Linked DNA regions of Homo sapiens. The main gene of each other region encodes a partner of the protein of the gene in region 2 in a complex. Each region holds a gene or a part of one and is shown on either strand. Other genes may lie near its edges.

Region 1 (7,490 bases), on a different chromosome or scaffold from region 2:
CCAGGCTCCTTCAACAGCTTTCCCGGCATGCAGTTTAAAAACACACCCAGCACAAATTTCGGCTATGGCTTAACTAAAGAACAGAACATGCTAGCCCTATTGTCCACTTCCTCGCTATCAAAAAAACCTTGCAAACTTTTTGGTTCCCCCTTTGTAAGTTCCAATCCAGGTGTTATTTCCTATTTATCCCCCTGCTTTTTATAAGCACTGATTGTTCTCCGATGCTGGCTTTTTATGGACTTAATAGTCTGGAACATGCAATCCAACAGTCTCAATATAACCCTGGACCTCAACTTAGAAAATCAGTTCTTTTCCAAATAGACATCCTACATAGGATAATTTTTTAAAAACATGAACTGGCATTTTGGTACAAGCAATTGGTAAAGTCGGTAACACCAAAATAGTTTTTTGATTAAAAACAAGAAAGTTGACCATGCTGTACGGATTCTCTTACTGACAGCTACTTCCCTACAGGTTTTCGCATCTCCAATTTCTAGCACTGTCAAAGAGAAAAAGATTAGGTGTAACTACAAATTAGCAACTATCAGGAAGAGAGAAAGCCCGCATAAGAGGTAATACCTAGTCACCAACAGTGACCATTCTAGACCAAGGTTGGTTATCCCCGGATGACTCGCTGGACAGGCTGTAAATGGAGTCCTGAGTCTAGTCAGAGTGGTGCTGGTGGCTCCACAGAAAGGAGGAAGAGCCAAGAAAGAAAATGGCTGGATAAACGGAATCTGCAAAGTAAGGTAGGGAATGGGCACTTTTAGGAGCTGAGAAGTGAACTAGGTTAGGCAGTCAAAATGGCTTGATGTAAGTCAAGAATTACAAGCTAAGCTTCCTTATTCAAGAGGAAAACATTGTCTAGAGCCGTACCACCCTGAAAGTGCTCGATCTCCTCAAAAGAAAACATCAACCACCCACACAAATAAATGCCACTGTCAACAAAACCACCAAATCAACCGTGCTGACGTACATACGTCATCAGAGTGTTTCTCCAGACACTATCCCTTTACCACGAAAGAGCAAACGGTGACAAAAGTTTCTGTAGAAACCAAACTCCTGGAGCACTTTTATAATGTCCACTTATCTAAGAACCACCACAATACAGAACTTTAAAGAGAGAAATCAACAATATGTTCTCACTTAAAATGCGCTGGATGTCATGACCCACCCCACTAACGTCCTGGCTAAATGATGAAAGGACGTTCAGCCTTTTCCTTCCTTTTTCATTTTCTCTTTAAGGAAACACTGATAGTTCCTAAAATAAGCACCATTAGGAAGAGAATACTTAAGTTCACTCATTTGACATTCCCACAAAATCAGTACCTGAAAGCAAGCTACCTACCACAAAATAAGCACCATTATGAGAATACATAAGTTCACTCACCGGATATTCCTACAACGTCAGCACCTGCAAGCATGCTACCTACGACTTAAGCAACCCCTAAGTACGGGAAGATGTTTAAAAACCAAAGTTAACTCGAAATTTTATGGATTAGAAAATGTATGTCTACTAGCTACGGTCAGAAAGACACGTGAGAACTATTAAATTATAACAAATGCTCAAGTGTCTGAAGAAATAGACTGAACTACTGATGCACGAACACAGTGAGTTATTCCAAGCAATCTGAATAAGGTCAACGATTTTACAGCAATGAAAATTCTCTAAACGTGTCGCTGACAAAGGATAAAAGTGTAAGCTTCACTTTAAAAAGACACAAATCAATATAGTCTCCTATCACACATTAAGTGAGGAATCCTAACTTTGTGGCACTTTGTAAACTTTAGAAGCGTACACAATGCTAAGGGTAAAACAGATCTTGGTATTGATAGCCAAGTTTCTGCCCGATCACAAGGCTGCAATGCATCTTGGGATTCCTTCAGGACGGTTGGGGGCCACGGACAGTTTAAACCGTAATTACAGTTTCAATAGTAGAAAACGCAGCAGAAGACGCTCTCTCGGCTGGGCCTAAGGTGAAAGGAAAACTCGGCCATTCGTCCTCCCCAACTCCTGGGATCTCTAAACGCCCACCCAAATGACTCCTGGCTCCATCTGTCCTCATTCTGCGCCTCGTGGCAGGGATCCGCCGCGGCCCCCACTCCGTTCCATACGGTTCCCATCTCAAGTGGGTAACTGCGGACTCCAGAGCAGGGCAGGGGCGCGGAGGGGCGGCACTCGGGTCCGGGTCTTTGGGCGCGCTGCCCGCTGTCCGCTCCCCGCCCGGCCACCGCCGCGGGCCGCCCCGCGAAGGCCGGCTCCCGGGCTCGGGGCGCCCCACCCAGGCAGACGGCGCCACTGTCAGCGCCCCACGTGCCGACCGGGCCCCAGGGCCGCGCGCCCCCGGACCGCACCCCTACGCCATGTGGGCTCCGGCGCCCGGCCGGACTTCCTCCCGCGTCCCGGGCCTTTACCCGCACGGCCTCCCGCGCCGCTGCCGGCTCCGTGGTTATTGGCGGCGCCGCCAACTGGGGGTGGCGGCGCTGCCGGGCCCCGCAGGAAGGACGGCACGAACTCGGCGGCGTGGACGTTGGGCACGAAGGGCTTGGCGTTGACGTTGAGTTGCCGGCTGAAGGCCGCGCTGAGGTTCTCCCGCTGGGCCTCGGCCGCCGCCGCCAGGGAGCCGCCGCCGCCGCAAGGGCCCGGCCCGGGGGCTTCCATGTCCGCCTGGTCCCAGCAGTCAGGCGCCGAGTCGCTGCTGCTGCTGCCGCTGCTGCTCCCGCCGCCGCCGCCGCCGCCGCCGCCGCCGCCACTGCCCGGATCCATGATCGGGGGGGCCGTGTGTGTGGTGGACAGAGAGCGGGAAATGGAGGCAGGGGCGCCCGGCCGGAGAGGAGTGGGCAACGCTGACTGAGGGAAGGCGGCGGGGCAGAAGGGCCGGGAGCTAGCGACAAAGATCCCCGGCGTCGCCGCGGCAGCAGCTCCAGTCCCGACTCCACACTCGCGACGACGACAGAGGCGGCGGCGGCGGCAGCTCAACCCTCCTCCTCGTGTGTGTGAGCGGATCTCCTCCCACCCAACCACCTCCGACGGCCTCACAGCCAACCCCACCCCCGGCGCGGATTGACCCCTCGCCGCCACCCGTACCTTCGCCTCGGTAGTTCTCTGTTCTGGCCGCCCCCGTTTCCGGCTATTTAGCGCGGCGGGAGGTGGAACTACAAGTTCCGGCAGCGCCCGCGCTACCCCGCTGCGGTTTTCCCGGGGGCCGACGGGAGTCGAAGTTCAGGGACAGGGCGCAACCGGAAGCGGCTCCGGCTCCCGGCAGGCAACGCGAGGAGGCGGAGGTCTGGTGGCCGCTCGGCGGCCCCACCTGTCACCTGGTGGGGGGGCAGCGGCAGGCCCTGGTTGGTGCAGCTCTGTGCTGGGCCGAAGACCGAGAGTATTTTAGCCCATAGGAGGGGTCCACTCTGGCCTGCTGGACACAGGCTGGGGGAAAACGGACAGCATCTATAACATGGGGAAGAAAAATACACTCAGCTCCCGAAAATTCTTGTACTCTCTTTTCACCACCTTTCCTGCGTTCTCTGCCTCACAGTCTCCGTACCTTATTCTCTCTCCACCTTCTTTCTCCTCACCCCCAGCCAGATTTTGCCCTTCATTTCAAAGCCGGTGCAGATTGCAAAGCTGATTTCATTTTATGTAATCATTTCGTGGAAGAAACAATAAAACCGTGAGATATTCCGGCTTAAAACTGCAGTGTGGCTCATAAAGCGCTGGGGCCCAGGCTCTGCCCAGGCAGAAGGGATTGTTAACTGGAAAATTTCAATGACTCACCGTTTGTTTGACTAGTCATATAAAGCCTTCACCCAAATTTTTCCATCCTTTCCTCCTCCCCGCCAAAGGGTTTGCAAATTAAACAGAGGATTGCCGTATTCCATGGTGTATCCGGCTTACCTAACAGGGTTATTTTGGTGAGTCTAGCTTCCTTATGCACCATTACGTGAAGTGGTTTCCTTTTGAATGGTCTGATTTGCTCAAGAATTCCCATAGTACTTTTCATCGACTGCATCTTACACTTACAGATTAGGTAAACCTGGGAAAAGAACAAAAGCAAACGAGAAATACTTAAGAGTTCGCATTTAGGCCCTTCATGAAGTAGGAAAAAATGTTGCTCTGAGTACCTGTTAAGCTTTCCTGTAATTCACCCATGTGGAGCCCAAGACAGAGAAAAACATATTGTTAGTATTTTTCTGAAAGGAGTCTAGACAGGGTGCAACTAATCTGCCTAGAAATTACAGACTAAAGAAGCACATACATAGAATAGATGTTTCTGAACAACCTTAGGTTGTTAAAAAAAAAAAAAACCTAACAAAATCCAGATCTAGATCTGTATTTTAATTTTCTTTTTTCTTTTTTTTGAGACGGAGTCTTGCTCTGTAGCCCAGGCTGGAGTGCAGTGGCGCGATGTCGGCTCGCTGCAAGCCCGCCTCCCGGGTTCACAACATTCTCCTGCCTCAGTCTCCGGAGTAGCTGGGACTAGAGGCGCCCGCCATCACGCCCGGCTAATTTTTTTTGTATTGTTATTAGAGACGAGGTTTACACCGTGTTAGACAGGATGGTCTGGATCTCCTGACCTCGTGATCCGCTCGTCTCGGCCTCCCAAAGTGCTGGGATTACAGGCGTGAGCCACCGCGCCCGGCCGATCTGTATTTTAATTTTAAACATCTGTATTGTAAAGATAAAAGAGAACTCAGCCTAATGAGATAGGTCAAAAACGAAGCTGTCAAGTATTTTTCAAAAGAGTCCTAGGCTACAGTAATTTGAATTTAATATTAAACTACCAAGCTTTAGGGATTAAAAAAACACATACCGGCCAGGCGCAGTGGCTCACACCTGTAATCTCAGCAATTTGGGAGGCCGAGGCAGATGGATCACGTGAGGTCAGGAGTTCGAGACCAGCCTGGCCAACGTGGTGGAACCCCCGTCTCTACTAAAAATACAAGTTAGGCCGGGCGCGGTGGCTCACGCCTGTAATCCCAGCACTTTGGGAGGCCAAGGTGGGCGGATCACGAGATCAGGAGATTGAGACCATCCTGGCTAACACGGTGAAACCCTGTCTCTACTGAAAATACAAAAAATTAGCCGGGCGTGGTGTGCGGGCGTCTGTATTGCCAGCTACTCAGGAGGCTGAGGCAGGAGAATGGCGTGAAACCAGGAGGCGGAGCCTGCAGTGAGCCGAGATCGCGCCACTGCACTCCAGCTTGAGCGACAAAGCGAGACTCTGTCTCAAAAAACAAACAAAAAAAGCGATCCACCTGCCTCAGCTTCCCAAAGTGCTGGGCTTATCGGTGTGAGCCACCACACCCGGCAGAGTTTGCCTCTGCTTAATAGGAAGTTTTGGTTATAGCCTATTATTATACCTGAAGACCTCACTGAATCATACTTAACAATGTCCATTTTAAAGTTGGTATTAAGTGACTGTCAGATTTACAGAGAACTTAACAACTGTTATGAAAATTAGAACTTCATTTATGCGAGACCTGTATTGCTATTGAATAAAAGATTTTCATCTTATATTCACAAGAAAAAATACAATGTGTTCTAAATGAAATGCCTTCTCTTTCCAGATTTTCACTCCCCACCCACCCACCCCTAAGAAAATGTCAACACAATCAGCTGACTCAAATAATGAACTACACATCCTTCTCTAAGCATTTTGTCTTTGAATACTACTCTCCTCCATGTAGCACTCCTACAGCACTGAATGATCACTTTCTCATAGGTTAGTTCTTCACATCTAATTGAATTAGCAGAGTTTCCTTCTGCCTGGTACTTTTTCTAGGGACAAAGGCAGAAACTGCTCAGACTGCTGCTTAGAAAAGCAGTTGATGTCATTAATTTCCTTGTCTCTGAATAGGATAATTATGGATATTCAGGAAAAAATCCACTCCATTGGTTTTCCAAAGCTTTGACCTGCCAAACAGAGCTCCAGCGGAAAAGGGAAAAGTCTTTCTTGTTAGTTGTGCTAAGTTGTGTGTAAGTTGTGCGACTTGAGGGCAGGGTCTTACCTTAATCTTCTTTACATTTCCACTGCCTAGTGTAATGCCCGGTGTATAAAAGGTGCTTAATCAATTTAGCTGGGATGATACTGTCCTTTGATACTCATTTAAGACTGCTGACACATAGGGCTAATAATTTTATTTATTTATTTATTTTTTAAATAACTTGAGACTCTTGAGACAGAGTCTCGCTCTGTCGCCCAGGCTAGAGTGCAGTGGTATGATCTCAGCTCACTGCAACTTCCACCTCCCAGGTTCAAGCGATTCTCCCACCTCAGCCTCCTGAGTAGCTGGGATTACAGGTGTGCACCACCACGCCCAGCTAATTTTTGTATTTTTAACAGAGACGGGGTTTCACCATGTTGGCCAGGATGGTCTCAATTTCTTGACCTTGTGATCTGCCCTCCTTGGCCTCCCAAACTGTTGGGATTACAGGCGTGAGCCACCACGCCTGGCCTGTATTTTTTTTTAGTAGAGACAGGGTTTCACCTTGTTGGCCAGGCTGGTTTCAAACTCCTGATCTCAAGTGATCTGCCTGCCTTGGGCTCCTAAAGTGCTAGGATTACAGATGTGAGCCACCGCACTTAGCTATTTTAATTTAATTTAATTTTATTTTTTGAGATGGAGTCTTGCTCTGTTGCCCAGGCTGGAGTGCAGTGGAGCAATCTTCACGCACTGCAACCTCTACCTCCCAAGTTCAAGCAATTCTCCTGCCTCAGCCTCCTGAGTAGCTGGGATTATAGGTGCCCGCCACCCCCCCTCCCCAACCCCCTGGTAATTTTTCTATTTTTAGTAGAGACAGGGTTTCACCATATTGCCCAGGCTGATCTGGAACTACTGACCTCAAGTGATCCTCCTGCCTCAGCCTCCCAACGTGCTAGGATTACAGGCATGAGCCACCACACCCCACCCCAGGACTAATAATTTAGAAAACTTAGGAAAAATCAGAGTTTTTCCTACTCTCACACACAAGTCACCGCTCAACACAGAGTACAGTCCTCTCTGGGTAGAGGAAGGGGATTAGTTCCAGGAGCCCTTCAGATACAAAAATCCAACCATACTAAAATCCCACAATCTATACTGTGTGTATGAAAGGTCAGCCCTCCCTACACTTGAGTTCCTGCATCCTGAGAATCCCGTCTTTTTGATCCTCATTTGATTGAAAAAAAAAATCCATGTGTAAGTGGGACCCTCGCAGTTCAGGCTCACATTGTTTAAGGGCCAGTTGTACTCCACCAGTAAGTGAGGGAGTTTCTACCCACCACCAACCAATTCTTCAACAGACACCAACAGGATAAGCAATCATTTCACTCAATTCTGACATTAACCAGAGTTAGGACAGATCCCACAAGTTAAGGGATCAGTCCCACAAGACTGCCCCCACTTCCAATGCCAATAACAGGTTCCACATTGTGACCTGTGCTTCTGACCAACTGGCTATGAATTGGGGGTTCCCATGACCCCCTCCATGGGTTCAGGGAATTTGCCAG
Region 2 (7,431 bases):
AAGGGGAGGAAAGGGCTTTTTCATTTCCAAAACAATACTGTTACTCAACCACTAAGTCTCACTACCTTGTCCTAATAACCATGCCTGAAAACCTCAGTTTCCTCCTGAAAACCAGAGTATCCCCAAAACATCAGCAAATACAGATTCATTTTGCCATCCACTTAAGTCTTTAAAGCCCATTACAATTCTTCTAAAGATATTTTATCACTAGGTAAAGTAGGAATAACATTTTCCACTGTACCCTATCTATGAAAATCTAGAGTCTGACTTTAACACAAGTTGGCAATGAAAATATTCCCACCTCCAAAAACTGGTATATACTGGGGAATCTTCTGACTCCCTTACCAATACTCAGAGATGGCCAAGATTTTAAATTTCCATGGGATCAAGATGCAACCAAATCCTGATTAAAAGCAAAGTAGGACATGATTATTAACCACAATGTGTAGCGGAAGGTCCTCCAGCTATTTTAGACAGCTTAATCATGTCTGAAATATCCAAACTCAACAACTTGAAATACAAGTTGTGTCTTATAACTTCATTTTTAGCATGCTTTAAACTTTACTGAACTTTGCTAAACAAAGAGGTAAAGCCTTCAAAAGCCTTAAAGAGGCGCTTAAAAGTTTCTAGTGGCTAGGTAACATGGGTAGAACAAATTTAAGAATGAGTTTCCTTCATTAAGCAGTAGAAAGGAATGCTGTTACTTATTAAGCAATGTCATCTTCAATGTTACTTCATTCAAACAGGCAAATTATAGTCATGATTTAATTTTTTGGACTGTTTCAGAGAATATAACGTATGCAAATTAAAATGTGTAAACCTGCCTGCTACTGAAAGCAGTAAGAACAAATCCAGAGGTCACATCCACCTATATACAATACTGCAACAACAGCAATCTATAAAATGCAATACTGGATTGAAGGCTTCAAGTAACAAAACAAGATCCTACTGAAACAAAAGAACCTGGCTAATTCTTGGTAGTGCAACATAATGGGTCGTGACCTATGTTACCCTTTCTGTACAGTATTCTCACATTTTGGGAATAACTGGTCACTCTATCATACGGCACAAGTTCCTGTAAGATCATTAAGAAGGTCTGGATATTCTATTGAATTCAAAGAAAAACCTAAGGACTAACAAGCCGCTGTCTTCGATTCATATTAAACTAACGTTTCTCCAGTAAACCGAAGGAGTGAGCACAAGCCCGTCACTGAATGGGGCCAAACTTTTAGAAGCCTCATTCCAAACAGAACTGTCCCTAATTTATTAAGAACAAAACACTAGTAAAACCAACCTGTGAATTGGGCCTTCAGTACAATTAAGCACATCCTGTTTCATATAACAGTAATAATGAAGAGCTTGGAGGGGCTGTCATTCTAAAATTGCAAATCTACCCATAAATGACAATCCTGGGCTGGAAACCAGAATGTCAAATTCTTGTGCTGAAATCAACTTTTCACATGGCCTGAGGCAGGCCATTCTACTATTCTAAGAATGCTCAGACATACAAGTATGTAATAATGTTCCAAACACTTTTTTTTGGGGGGGGGGGCACTTCCTGTAAGTAAAAAGTTTCTATGACTGGGAAAGGAACAAAATAAAGTAATAAAAGAAACAGGAATACCCCTGGCACACCTTCCTCAAACGAACAACGTTAAAAAAAAAAGAAAACACACACACACAGCTAATTTTAATCTAGCCTACTCTCCCCCCAATGGACACACCTACAGTTTCTTATCAAAATGTACAAGACTCAAAGCCCATTTAATTCAATTATGAATCTCACTCAACAAGCATCAAGCACATCAGGCGCCTCTCTACAGCGATATCCCCACAAGTTTCAGAGAAATGCCAGCAGGGACTCTGTAGTTATGATTCCTATCAAACGGCCCCCTAACCCGTATTTCTCCTGGACATACACATGCAGATTCATTAACCAAAACCTACCCAGCACCCCTCACATCGCGCGTACGTTGGCATTTTCAGTTTATAGGTGGGTCCTGGAACAGCTAAAACCAGGAAGCTCCGGGGTAATTAGAGGACTTGGGAGAAGTCATCTTGGGACAGGTGGAAGACCCAGAGAAATCAGGAATCAGAAAGAAGCTGTCCCTGGCCACCTCTGCTTCCCGTCCCATCCAAACTTCACCCACCCGGGTCTCAGAAGCCCAGAAGGGAGAGGCCATTTTAATGAGGCCTGGCTGAGAAATGAAGGGAGAAGAGGAAATCAGGGAAGGGCCCTGGGAAAGGAAGGCCGAACACTTTGCCACAATAGCACCCGAGTCGGGTGGCAGCACCTGGAGCCCGAAGAGGGAGGACCTGGACTTAAGGGCCCGGGAGAGGTGCAAAAGTAGCGGTGGCCTACCACGAGGGGGGCCGAGTGATCTAAACCGGGGAGCGCGGGCCCCTTACCCCCATGCGGGGAAAGGACCCCTTCTCGGGCCAACCGCGCCGACCCTCGCCCCTGGGTCAGGGGCTACTACCCAGAGATCCAGAAGGCGGGAGTTGGCTAGTGCCTGGTTCTCCTCATCCGGCCATGCGGCGCGGGGGCGTCCATCCTGAGGGGTCCGGGAACCAAGAGGGCACGGAGGGTGCCGGACGCGGCGCTCACCCGCGGGCCGCCTCCAAGCTCTTAATGAGCTTCTTGATCTTCCAGATCTCCACGTTCCTGTCGGCAGCACTGGGGTCGTCCGCCATCTTCTCGCCTCCTCCTCCCTAGAGCGGCCCGGCGGGGCCCGGAGACACCAAGACCACAGAGTTAGCGCCGCCGCTGGGGCAGAGCGGCCCCCTTCCTCGCCATCCCCCAGAGGCCCTCTCCTCCCGTCCGGTGCAGCTCGCCACAAAGGTCACCGGCCTTTCCCTCCCTGTGCCTTACCTAAGGGCCCAGTCCTGGGCGGCAGCGGCTGCTCCTCCCCGGCGGCGGCTCCGCGGCGGCGGCGGCTCTGACGTAGGACACCGGCTCCCTCTCTCCAGGCAGCTGCATGTGTTGCAATCCGCTCACATGGGGCCTGTGACATCACTTCCTCCGCCAGGGGCGGAGTGGAAGGCGGCAGGCGGAAGGGAGGGGGCCGGTGCGAGTGAGGAGAAGCTGGGCGTCCGCCGCGACTTCTCATTGGCTCTCTGCCCCGCAGCCTACAATGAGCCCGCCGATTGGCTGCAGCTGGGTCCGCGCCGCCTTGTGAGGTAAGGCTGGGGGGTGGGAGGTGCCACCTTTCTTCCGGCCCGGCAAGGCGAGAGGAGGAAGCGGGCGGAAGCCGGTGGCTCTCGCGAGTTTACTGAGAGCCCCCGTCAGGCTCGAATGGGGGTGGTTCTTAAAGAGAGAGGACCGGGGTCGTCGTCTTTTCAGTCCATTCTCCTTGAATAGGGTGGACATCTGAGGCTTTGCGACTCGAAGCTAGGCACTTGGGCCCGACGCGCGGTTTGAACGGTGCTTGAGAAGCCGCGAAGAAGCGCCTCGCGCTCAGCGGCTTCTTCGCTGACGAAGTGCTGCGGTCTGCGTGCGTCATGGCTGCACGGAATAGTGTGGAGGAGTCCTGGCCAGTAGGTCTGGATGAGGAACCTGCCTCCGGGCGGTCCGGGACCCTCACCTGCAGGGGCGAAAGAGGCCTGTTTTCTCTCGCCCCAGAGCTAGGACGGGCTCACTTTGGACTTAGAACTTTATGGGGTGGAAGACAGCGGGGGCTGCCTGAGCTTGGAGACCTGAGGTATCTGGTCCCATGTATGATTTGGCCTGAGCCGTTGAGAATGGGGGTGGAGAGAGTTGAAACAAAATGGGCATCCACATACGGTTAGAACTTTATCTTTTTGAGTTAGGATTTTTAGGTGGCTACTTTGTCCCCCCTCACCTCGTCTGGGTTCAAATATTGAGCCCAGACCGTGTGCTGGACCCTGTTTTCCTGGGGATACAGAGGTGAACCAAACAGATGACAGTACTTACCCTTATGGAGCTTATAGTCGATTGGGTTTTTAAGTTTGTGATTTTATACTTTTTGTAATAAAATAATTACACAAATGCTTAAGTACTTCAGGGTGCTCTGAGAGTGTATGGCGGGGACCCAGCTCTGAAATGAGACCCAAAGGATGATTAAGAGTTTGTCAGGAGGAAACAGAATACAGTTGAGAACTACAGAAACGCCAGTGTGCTGGCACAAGGTCAGGGACGGGGAGAGTGGTTTGAGGGAGCAGCAGGGGAAGAGGTCATGTAGGGTCTTTTAAGCCAGATTCAGAAGTTTGGTTTCTTTCAAGAACAGTGGGTAGTTTAAAGGGTTTAGAGCCCTGGTGTGGACTGGAGAGAGTACAGGAGAAGCCCAGAGACCATTTTGGCTGCTTCATTATCATGTGAGAGATGATTTTCGCTTACATTAGGGTGGTGACAGTGCAGATAGAAGTGAATGAAGGGCCTGGTGCAGTGGCCCACGGCTGTAATCCCAGCACTTTGGGAGGCCAAAGGGGAGGATCGCTTGAGCCCAGGAGTTTGCGAGCAGCCTGGGCAACATGGCAAGATTCCGTCTCTACAAAATTACAAAATATTAGCCTGGTGTGGTGGCCCGCGCCTGTAGTCCCAGCTGCTTGGGAGGCTGAGGTGGGAGAAACCCTTGAGCCGAGGAATTCGAGGCTGCAGTGAGCTGAGATCACACCACTACACTCCAGCCTGGGTGACAGAGCGAGACCTTGTCTCGAGGAAAAAAAAAAAGTGAATAGGACTGGATGATGGATTGGTTGAGGAAAACCAAGAATGGTTCCCAGAGTACTGAAGTGGTGACATTTACTGAGGTGGGAAAGGTGAGGAGTAGGTGTTGGGGGATGATTGAGAATTTCATCTTGGGCCTGTTAAGTTTGAGATTGCTTATGAGACATGTAAGTAGGGATGTCCGTCATGCGCTTTCATTTGTATGGTTTTTGAATACTTTTTGCATGTGTTATAAACTGTGTCCACACTTTGAAGATGGGGGTATGACCTCCATTTCATACATGGGGAAACTGAGGCAAAGAAAAGTGAAAGGGATCTGCTCAGAGTCCACAGCTAGTTTATGGCTTCCCGACTCCATTTTTGGAGTCCAGTGTATTATACAGTGACCCCATTACCTGTATTTTCATAGGGTGGGGACACGGTCATACTTCTGTCCCCCAGGAAATGAATCTCAGGTTGGAACCTCTTCTTTGGGTTCCATTTTGTAGTTTTTGGCATATGTTTATTTGTTATATAATATTGTACTCCTGCTGTGTGTGTGTCATTCACTGTGTTTAGTAGTGAACGGAGGGGTCTTCTTAGTCATAAACACTGCTTACTGACTAGGAATCAACTGTGTCCAAGGTTTTCCTTCATTCCTCTTGCCCTGGTTCCTCCTTTCTATATTAGATTGCCCTACTCTACCCTTCCTGTTCTTTTTTTTTTTTTTTTTAAAGACGGAGTCTCCCTTTGTCGCCCAGGTTGGAGTGCAGTGGCACGATCTTGGCTCACTGCAACCTCCACATCCCGGGTTCAAGCGATTCTTCTGCGGCAGCCTCCTGAGTAGCTGGGACTACAGGCGGGTGCCACCATGCCCAGCTAATTTTTTGTATTTTTATTAGAGTCGGGGTTTCACCGTGTTAGCCAGGATGGTCTCGATCTCCTGACCTCGTGATCTGCCTGCCTCGGCCTCCCAAAGTGCTGGGATTACAGGCGTGAACCACCATGCCGGGCCAGTTTTTGTATTTTTTATTTTTTATTTTTTTTTTAGCAGAGACAGGGTTTCACCATGTTGGCCAGGCTGATCTTGAATTCCTGACCTCAGGTGATCCACCTGCCTCCGCTTCCCAAAGTGCTGGGATTACATGCGTGAGCCACCACACCTGGCCTCCTCTTCCTTTTGATGTTTGTGTTTACAGCATTGCTTCAGGTCCATGCTTGAAGGCTTTCTTCTGTGTGATTCAGGCTGAAGTAAGCATGACGACATCCCAAGTAGGATTGCTGTTTTCAGCCTCTGAATTCTTAAAACTTATTTCTTAGACAATTGCAGGCCCAGGTAGCCCCAAAAGCTCCTTGCCTAGTTGCTGCAAATTCACCATCTCTGCATTTAGAATTAGAAATCAGTGCATTAGAGGCAAAGGCTGGGATAACTATCTACGTGAAGAGGTTTGGGATGTATGAAGCACGGATGGTAGTGCCTGCATCAAGGCTTTTTAAATGGGACCATGACGATTCATTGTTGAGGAATGTTCTGTGATATAAAAGTGATACAGATTTTTCAAACTGCTAAATGGTGAGAACAAAATATATAACCTCTCTAGGCACACAGATTCTCTGAAAAATAAAGGAATTGTTCTTTATGATCTCAGAACTTCCTCCTCAGCTCAAACATTATGTAACAAAGTTAAATATTGGGATATAGGTGATGTTCCTACCTAATTAGGTGGGAGTAGGCAAGTAAGTTTTTGTTTCATTTTCTTTTTTTTTTTTGAGGCAGGGTCTCACTGTTGCCCAGGCTGGAGTACAGTGGTACGATAATAACTCACTGCAACCTTGACCCCAGGACTTAAGCGATCCTTCCACCTCAGCCTCCCTAGTAGCTGGGACCACAGGCGTGGGCCATGATGCCTGGCTAATTTTTGTATTTTTAGTAGAGATGGGGGTTTCACCATGTTGCCCAGGCTGATCTCGAACTCCTGACCCCACGTGACCCACCTGCCTCAGCCTCCCTAGTAGCTGGGACCACAGGCGCAGGCCATGATGCCTGGCTAATTTTTGTATGTTTAGTAGAGATAGGGGTTTCACCATGTTGCCCAGGCTGATCTCGAACTCCTGACCTCACGTGACCCACCTGCCTCAGCCTCCCAAAGTGTTGGGATTACAGGCCTGTTATAAGTTTTGATGTTGAAAGCACAAATAAGTCTTTGTGCTTAGAGAGAACTGGTCTCTACAAAAACAAGAAAAAAAAATCAGCCAGGCACAGCAGCATGTGCCCCTAGTGCCAGCTACTGAGGAGGCTGAGGCAGGAAGATCACCGGAGCCCAGGAGTTTGAGGTTACAGTGAGCTGTGATCACTGCACTCCAGCCTGGGTAACAGAGCAAGACCCTTTCTCAAAAAAAAAAAAAAAAAAAAGCTACAGAATGAGGTTATTTGTCACTAATGTGAAGATAAGTTTAAGAGTAACGAAGATAGACCACACACAGTGACTGATGCCTGTAATCCTAGGACCTTGGGAGGCCGAAGCAGGAGGATTGCTTGAACTCAGGAGTTGGAGTACAGCCTGAGCAACCTAGTGAGACCTCATCTATACTACAAATTAAAAAAAAATTTAGCTGGGCATGGTGGTGCACACCTAAGTCGTCCCTAGTAGTAGTCCCTAGCTACTCAGGAGGATCACTGGAGTTCAGGAAAAAAAAAAAAAAGAGTAGCCAAGATGAAGGCAGGGAAGGGATGGTTGTGGTAAGATTTGCTAAAGGGCTGCCTT

What was found.
Region 1: the proteins of ETF1 (region 2) and GSPT1 are in contact, whole or in part, in a crystal structure (PDB 3E1Y), measured with the Homo sapiens proteins. Residues at the interface, in NP_004721.1 of Homo sapiens: Phe291, Ile294, Ser295, Gln296, Asp297, Phe303, Gln397, Ser400, Gln401, Lys404, Gly405, Phe406; in NP_001123479.1 of Homo sapiens: Ser404, Ile405, Ile406, Cys407, Pro408, Gly409, Tyr410, Asn411, Arg445, Phe446, Lys448.

What each region holds. Positions count from the first base shown.
Region 1 is NC_000016.10:11,912,954-11,920,443, forward strand, and holds the start of GSPT1 (eukaryotic peptide chain release factor GTP-binding subunit ERF3A), read right to left. Parts: upstream 3,004-7,490; 5' UTR 2,768-3,003; coding exon 2,416-2,767; intron 2,260-2,415; exon of another isoform or gene 2,067-2,259; coding exon of another isoform or gene 2,036-2,066; exon of another isoform or gene 1,425-2,035; coding exon of another isoform or gene 1,391-1,424; intron 1-1,390. UniProt on the Homo sapiens protein: GTPase component of the eRF1-eRF3-GTP ternary complex, a ternary complex that mediates translation termination in response to the termination codons UAA, UAG and UGA.
Region 2 is NC_000005.10:138,540,225-138,547,655, forward strand, and holds the start of ETF1 (eukaryotic peptide chain release factor subunit 1), read right to left. Parts: upstream 3,013-7,431; 5' UTR 2,873-3,012; intron 2,720-2,872; exon of another isoform or gene 2,713-2,719; 5' UTR 2,695-2,712; coding exon 2,609-2,694; exon of another isoform or gene 2,410-2,608; intron 1,488-2,409; exon of another isoform or gene 1,339-1,487; coding exon of another isoform or gene 1,295-1,338; intron 1-1,294. UniProt on the Homo sapiens protein: Component of the eRF1-eRF3-GTP ternary complex, a ternary complex that mediates translation termination in response to the termination codons. The eRF1-eRF3-GTP complex binds to a stop codon in the ribosomal A-site.